Linked DNA regions of Homo sapiens. The protein of the gene in region 1 purifies or fractionates together with the protein of each later gene. This does not show direct contact. Each region holds a gene or a part of one and is shown on either strand. Other genes may lie near its edges.

Region 1 (3,746 bases):
TCTAAGGTGTTGATAAAATGTAAATATATTTTTAGAACAATCTTAGAGCTTATGCTAAAGATGAACTATGTAAGAAAGTTACCTTCTTCAGCCACTTGTAAATAGCAGTGTGGACCAATGCTTTGGATCCTCTTCCACAGGAGAGGAGACAAGATTGGAGGAACCAAAGAACCATGGAATTAGGGACAAATGGCTCAGAACAGTGCTCTGCAGACACATGCATCTGTACTTTGCTTCCCAGAAGCCAAATGAAACTGTTGGAGCTTGGTGGGCTCCAGGCCTCAGGGGGAAGACCACCCTAGGCTTTATCTTTTCCTCTGCCCTTCCTGCCTGCTGTTAGCCTCTCCTCTGGACCAAAACTCCCTTTAAGGGGAAAACCTCCTCTTTGAAGCCCACAAGATACGGTGAGGATTACTGCCTTTTTCTGATTTCCAACGTGGGTTTTTCATTAAGCAAAGAACAATTAGAAAACCCACACATAACATAGGGTATTCAGTAAGTTCAGGAAAGTGTTTTCCACCATCTCTTTGCCCCCATTCCCTCCCCAGCGCTTGGCTCAAGGTCTGGAGCTTGAATCTGCATCGTCTTCCTAGGTGCTTGCCTGAGGTGAGTGGTCAGCGGGTGCTGGCTTGGGGGCAGCTGGCAGGGCGTATGCTGCGGGTAGGAACCCAGGGAACACTGGGCGCCTTAGCTTGGAGCAGCTGGCTCCGAGGAATTGTTCCACGTCTGCACAACTTAAAAATCTGCAGTTTGGGGGCGGGAGGGGGAGCGCGGGGGTGGGTCCCGAAGCGTCCCATTTCTCCTCCTGGCTGTTAACTGAGCGCTCTCGCTCAGTGCAGCGAGGCCAGCGATGCCTTCTGGACCACACGCTGTCCTCGCCGAGGTCCTGGTTTGTTCCTCAACGTCGGCTGAAGGCATCGTCCCCTGACTTCCTCTTCCATTCGTCCTTCCGAAAGGGGACCCGACTGGTTCCTCTTCTACATATGAGGCGCATCTGCTTGGTGCAAATGTCCAAGCACCTCTTCTGACTCGGTGAGTGGAGGAATAAGACAAAGCATCTTGTTCTGCACTGTGCCTGAGTCTTCAGGCAGCGGGACCGATGGCAAACATTGGCAGGAACTGGAGCTATATGTACTCTCCTTCGCACTTTGTTTTAAAACAAGTTTGGGCCTCGCGATTTCCTGAGGAAATCCAGGCAAATTAGCAAAGTGTCGCTTGGGCCGCGACTTTAGAAAGGCGGTTGCCCCAGCCGCCGGGGCCGCGGGGGAGGTCATCTTTTTCCCGCAGGGCCACGGCGCTTCCGGCCCAGGAGGGCGCGCAGGTGGGAGGCGCGGGGCGCGCTCCTGGTCCCACCCGGACAGCGCCTGCCGCTCCGGGGTGACTCTGCACTTGGGCCTGGGCGGGGGCGCGCGGCCGGCAGGGCAGCATCTAGGTCTATGGGTCTGTCCGCCTGTCTGGCGGTCGGAGCCCCGCAGTCCTCAGCCGCCCGCGCCCTCGGCCCGGGGCGCCCGGCTGCGGGCCCGAAGCGAGGGGCTGGCGGAGCTGCGACCAATGGGGCGGCGGCCGAGCGGCGGGCCCCGCCCCGTCCCGTCCGGCCCCGCCCCGCCCGCAGCTCCCGGGAGCCTCGCTCTAGCGGGGCGGGACCGACGGACAGACCGGCCGACGCGGGCCACCCCGCTCTCCTCGCCGCCGCGGCGGCAGGCGCGGGGCCGCGCCGCGAGGCCTGATCCCTGCAGCGCGGGCAGGCGGCGTCGCAGAGCGGAGCTAGCTGGATGCGTCCGGACTCCTGCAGGTACCTGGCTGGCGTCCCCACCTCCCTGCGCGCTCCGGAGACTTCTCCGGGCGACCCTGCAACTTTACCGCGCCTTCCCCCACCTTTTGCTGCCCCAGTCTCCTGTGGTCCAGGTCGCGGGTGCACGACCCCGAGGGTCTACGGCCGCAGAGCACTTTCCGTCCTTCTGGGCGTCTGGCCCGCGGCGCCCGCATCCTCTGGTCCCCAGAGCCCGCCGTCGCTGGAGCCCTAAGGCTCCGCCTGTTGCGTGAACTGCGGGCTGTTGAAGCGGTGGCTGGGTTGATTTGAAAGCCTCGGGGAAGGTATTTAGGATCAGCTTTCGGGGAGTGGGGTGGGCTATGGTCAGGGGGAGGACCACCTGGAGGCGGGAGAATCGATGAGCCGAAGAAAGGCGGCACCTCGCGTAGGGGCATCCCCGGGGCGTTTCCTTGGCCGGGAAGCCGTTCCTTCCCTTCCTCGAGAGGAGGCGCTTTCCTGGCGCTTGTAAATGCTTCCCGGGCCGTCTGCTCCGCCTTCTTTGTCATTCCTCCCCTCCCCTTTGCCCTGCAGCTGTGCTAGGCGCCCCGCGACAGTTGCAGGGAAGAGCGAACCCAGGGCCCTTGCTCTCGTGCAGCGCTGCGCCCTGGGTGGGGACGGCGTGAGGCTTGCAGCGCAGGTGTGGAGTCACTTGCGGACTCTGCGTTTGGATCAGTGGCAGTGGTGGGGAAGGGTCACCCCGGGGTCAGGAACTCCTCTTTTTTTTTTCGCGCCTTTCTGGGTGGCTGCCCGACCTCCTGAGGCACCTTGGCTAGCAAGCGAGCCAGTCTTGCCGGCAGGGGCCGCGGCGAGCCTGGCTGGGCGCCTTTCGCATTGCAGGGCTTGTCCTGCACCCCCAACCCCGCTCTGTCCCTTCTCGTTCATTTGGAGAAAGGAGCACCTTTTGCATTCTTGATGTCTCCCCCCGGTTTTGTCTGGGGAGACCGAGCCGAAAGCTTCACTCGGGTGGCCCGCAGCAGGGGCAGAGGACAGCAAAGAGCTACCTCCACCTGCCAAAATGACCCAGGGGCCCTGGTTTGGTGCCAAGGCGTGAAGTGGGGGGAGGGGCGGTAGGTGTTCCTTACGTTCCTGCCGGAGAGTAGCTTTGTGGTTGGCCCGGAGCCTTCGTTCGGGTTTTTTGTCTTTCACCCTACCCTCTGAAAATACTGGAGCAGATGAGTACAAACAGTTCAGAAGCCTTTCCTGTTTCTTTCCCTGTATTTACTCAAGCGATTTGCGTAACCATTCACTTGGAACTGTGTAAGTCACTCCTAGTTGCCCCCCTTCTTAGACTATTTGCAAATACCTGCCCAGGTAAACAGGAAGCACGCACCTATCTCTTAGCTGAAGGCATATGCCCTCGTGCTTTGTCTTCCCTGCATATCTGGAGCCGAAGAGGTGGCTTTGATTCTCTAGCTGAACTTGGTGTAATGTGCAGGCTCCACTTCTTACCTGGGTGGTGACCTTCTTGAGGAGATTGACTCGTTCAGTATGCATTTCCAACCAGCCCGCCATGGGCCAGGCCCCAGGATGCACTCGGGGACAGACAGCAAATGGATGATATAATTTCTGCACCCAGTCTAGTCTGTTCTTTCTTTCTCACCAGCTTCCCTTCTTCTCTTGTTCTAATATTATGTTTGTCGTTTCTGAACTAGGAATTGTCAATATTGGGATCCGGAGAAGGTCATATGAAGGTGCCATAGAACTCTGAATCCAAAGCATGTTGTGAATATACTAAGGAGACTTGCGGGATCAGTATTAATTGAATCTTTTGTCTGACCCATAATTGCCTGAATAGAGCCATTGATGAATGCAGCTACGCTAAGGTTTTGCTGGTCAAGTGTATGAGGGCAAATTGGGAGGTCAGAAGCAGTCTTTGTTCTGTTCTGAAATATTATAATATTAAAAATCCAAAGCTCTGGAGCTTGAGTTTGCCAGC
Region 2 (3,746 bases), on another chromosome or scaffold:
ACTATCAAAAATTTGTATGGAATTACAGGAAAAATGTAACATATTCTTTTCAGAAAAAAGTACCAAATATCTTTTGCAAACGTTCATAAAATTGACTAGCTCAACTCCGACCACGTAACAGGTATGAATTAGCAGGCACAGTTGTTACGTTCAAATAAAACAGAAAGAGAGGAACAAGTGGGATTAACCATTTCTAATTAAAAGGAAGAATGGTACAAAGGCCAATGTTTCCCAGCATGTTCCCCAAAACAAACAAACAGATGACAGGAAAGTAAAGGATCATATAGTCAAGAAATCAAAGCCTACAGCAGTTCCCAAACAAGTGACTGAAATGCCCTTCCTCCCACCCCATGCACATTTGCAGGCCTTTGTACACTTGCTTTCTTGCTCTCTCCTGGATAGTCTCTTGCTCTCTCATATGTTTCTGCTCTCAAGTATTAGCCTTTTCCTGAAAATATTTCAGGACTAGGTTCCCTGGAGCATATTTTCAGAAATCTTGATGCAAGGAATGCCAGGGAAAGGTGTTCTGCCACATCTCAGTGCAAGTTAAGTGGAAAAGCTGTTTCCAGCAAAAGGGCTTTAAGTAGCTAGCAGGATGACTTTCTTGATGATTAGCAAGGACATGGGTCCTCCTTTTAATCAGGGCTCATGTGACATAGCACAGACCGACTGTTATAAACATGGTAGTTGATCTATTAGCAAGAGATGACAGGGCAGCTAAAATAAGCTGTAAAAATCATCTACGCATACACGCAGGAACAGACTCACTAAACATTTGCTTGCTTCACTTGTAGGCAGGGCCAAGGATCTAGCCCACCCAGCTGAACTAGAGGTCTCAGTCTTTTTTGGTAAACACAAACAACAATGCTGGTTATTAGATGTCTACCTACTTATATTATAAATTTTCTGTACCATTGCATACCTGAACAACTCTTCATGTCTCAGACCACATATCCTTATCCATATATTTATTAAAATGGTCACTAGACTGCTAAGAGATTACAGAGAGTCACACAAATACCTAACACTCTAGCAGACTGCTCAACATGCTCAGGAAGGGTTAGTTTCCTTTCTCTGGTCCCATCTCCAACTTCCACACTTGCCTTTTATTCCTCCTAGCTTTCAGAGTTACTACATATTTCAGTGTCTCTCAGTTTTGCTTTTCTAGGTTTTAGTTTTATTAATCTAAAAGTCATCAGAAAAAAAAAATCCTGGTTTTGTTTTTTTTTTTCCCCCAGAGCAACTTTTAAACCAGCTCATCACATACACGTACACCATGGTTTACAGTTAAAAACACTGCCCATATATAATTATGCAAGCCATTTTCCTTCTGGGCTGAGGATATAACAGAAATATCTGGGGCTGAAGGCTGGCATCAGGCAAGTTTTCAACTCTCTTTCCCACCTTATGAGTTTACATGTGTCAGGGGCAGAAGAGAGGATACTTACATCTGCCTCAGATTCTGGGTCGGCTTCTCGGGGTCCTTGTTCACGAGGCTCATGTCTATTACCTGGATCTCCTTCTGCTTCATCTTGGTGCTGGTTGTCTCTTTCATAGGCTAGCAAATCAAAGGAACTAAAATCAGCCCAAAATGAATCAAACAGGATTTCCCTTTCAACTCAAAGAAAAGCCACCAGTGGACTTTTCTACAGACTACAATACCTCCACCTCTGTTAACTCAACATAAGGCCTATGTCCTGGCTTTTCTGAATAAGGTTATGTTCTCTTCACAGACTGTGTGTCTAGAGAGATGATATGGGTCAGACACTTTTCTTCTAAAATAAATATTTTTCACAGGAGCTGTAATTTTTCCCCCATATGCAAGAAAACAACAACAATCAAAACTCTCTCAATAAAAGAAAGCCCAGTTGATTGGACACTGCTGAAGAAATCAACTAATGTTTGATAATATCAGAGGAAGTAGCTGGGCTCCAAAAGAAGAAATTGATAGTTTCAGGAAATGCAAGGAAGAACTGCCCCATCTGTGGAGCTCAGAAACAAATATAGCCCATCACATGTTTTCTGATGTCATCACAGTAATGATGATGACCGCCACAGCCCAGAAACAGCACACATTCATACTCAGACATTTACTTGCTGCTTTTTGAAAAAATATTTAGATAAAGAGAATTGTATGAGCACAAAAAGAGAAGAACAAATCACTTTTTAAAACAAGTAAGATAGAAGAGGAAAGTTTAAGTATATGGAGTGTACTAAGCCTAGAGAAAATGATGATACGGGGTAACTTACCATCAGCCTTCAAGTGCACAAAGGGGTTTACTACATAGAGAAGAGGACAAGCCATTCTCTAGTCTTACTGATATGAGAACAAAAAAGCTTAAAGTGCCACATGGCGGACATAAGGAAAACAATTTCTTGACTGTAAGAGCTGTAAGATATCACAACGGGCTATTGAGGGAGGTTGTATGTAATCACTTTCTTTCTGACTTTTTAGAAAAAGATACACATCTAAGTGTTAGTGGTGCCAGAGAGACAGTAAGTTACATTCTGGTTCTATTATAACAGTAAGCAATATTTGATAAATTACATATTAAGTGCTTATCATAAATGAAAGCTACTATTGACTTAATTTGAAAACATTTTAAGGCAATGATGTGAGGACTTCCAAGGTAAGGAGAAAATGCAGATGTTTCCCAAAGCATAATAATCCTATAATAATTTGTCAGAAATATTATAAATATTTAGTATATAAAAAGCTTAAACTACAGGGAAAATGATAGAGAGGAAACAGATTATCTTGAGCATTTTTCACTACCAGCATGTACTGTTTAAGAGGATTAAGAAAAAGACATGATTCACAAACCTCCTTTGCACTTAGGTATGCATACAGCTCATTGATGTTATATAATATTGGCTCACTGATAATATACAATGTTATCAAGTAATTTATTAAAACATTCATCATCTAGGAAGTCTCACCACCTCCTTCCTCTCCTTGGATTCCCTGGTCCTCTGCTCCCTGAACGATATCATTATCCATAGCATCATAATGAGCTTGCTGCCTACAAGAGACACAAACATGATAAATCCAGTGGGACAAAATTCAGAGGCACAGTTTGACATAGGTCATTTATCTTTAAAGACAGTAATAAGTAATGTTTCTCAACATTTTTAAGAAGCCATGAAAAATTTTTAAAAACCTCTTATGTATGCAATTAGGTATAATAAAAATTCCAGATACACTTTCAAAAGGTATCTTAAAAAGATAAAATATCTTTTAAAGATAAAATAAAATAAAGTTGGCACAAAGCCTGCAAGGCTATTTGGAGACCTAACCTACCACTTTTGAGCAGAAAAAAAATATTATTTTTAAAATTAAATATTTGGTATTTAATTTTCAAGTAGCTGTCCTGCCTTGGCTATTTGAGCAATATGAGCCCCTTAACTTCATGAATCACAAATGCACAAAACTGTTTTTAATTTGCGTATGAAAACTGGAGCAGGGGCTGTCTTCGTTCATTAAGGAAGGGGAAGGCTACCGGAGCTGCTCCTGGTGCTGCGGCCGGCCCTCCTCAAGCTCAGCCTGCCTCTGCAGGGCCATCTCTCTTGCCACCTGCTGCTGCTGCTGTTCCTGCTGCCGTAGTAAGTGCCCCTGCAGCCTCTGCTGGTGCAAAGCTTCCTGGTGTTCCCGCAGCTGCTGGGCCTCCTCCACCTGCTGCACTGCCAGTCTCTGCTGTTCCAACTGTTCCTCATAGGGTGATTGGAATTTGATCATTGGCTTGGCT

Evidence for each region. Proteins that work in one complex are often made in the same cells at the same time.
Region 2: the proteins of KCNS3 (region 1) and GOLIM4 purify together in Homo sapiens (affinity purification with mass spectrometry; 2 studies listed by BioGRID and IntAct, with this or other methods). This does not show direct contact.

What each region holds. Positions count from the first base shown.
Region 1 is NC_000002.12:17,877,015-17,880,760, forward strand, and holds the start of KCNS3 (delayed-rectifier potassium channel regulatory subunit KCNS3), read left to right. Parts: upstream 1-1,652; 5' UTR 1,653-1,792; intron 1,793-3,746. UniProt on the Homo sapiens protein: Potassium channel regulatory subunit that modulates the delayed rectifier potassium channel activity of KCNB1 by namely slowing down the deactivation and inactivation time constants.
Region 2 is NC_000003.12:168,026,280-168,030,025, forward strand, and holds part of GOLIM4 (Golgi integral membrane protein 4), read right to left. Parts: coding exon 3,501-3,746; intron 3,024-3,500; coding exon 2,944-3,023; coding exon of another isoform or gene 2,941-2,943; intron 1,559-2,940; coding exon 1,449-1,558; intron 1-1,448. UniProt on the Homo sapiens protein: Plays a role in endosome to Golgi protein trafficking; mediates protein transport along the late endosome-bypass pathway from the early endosome to the Golgi.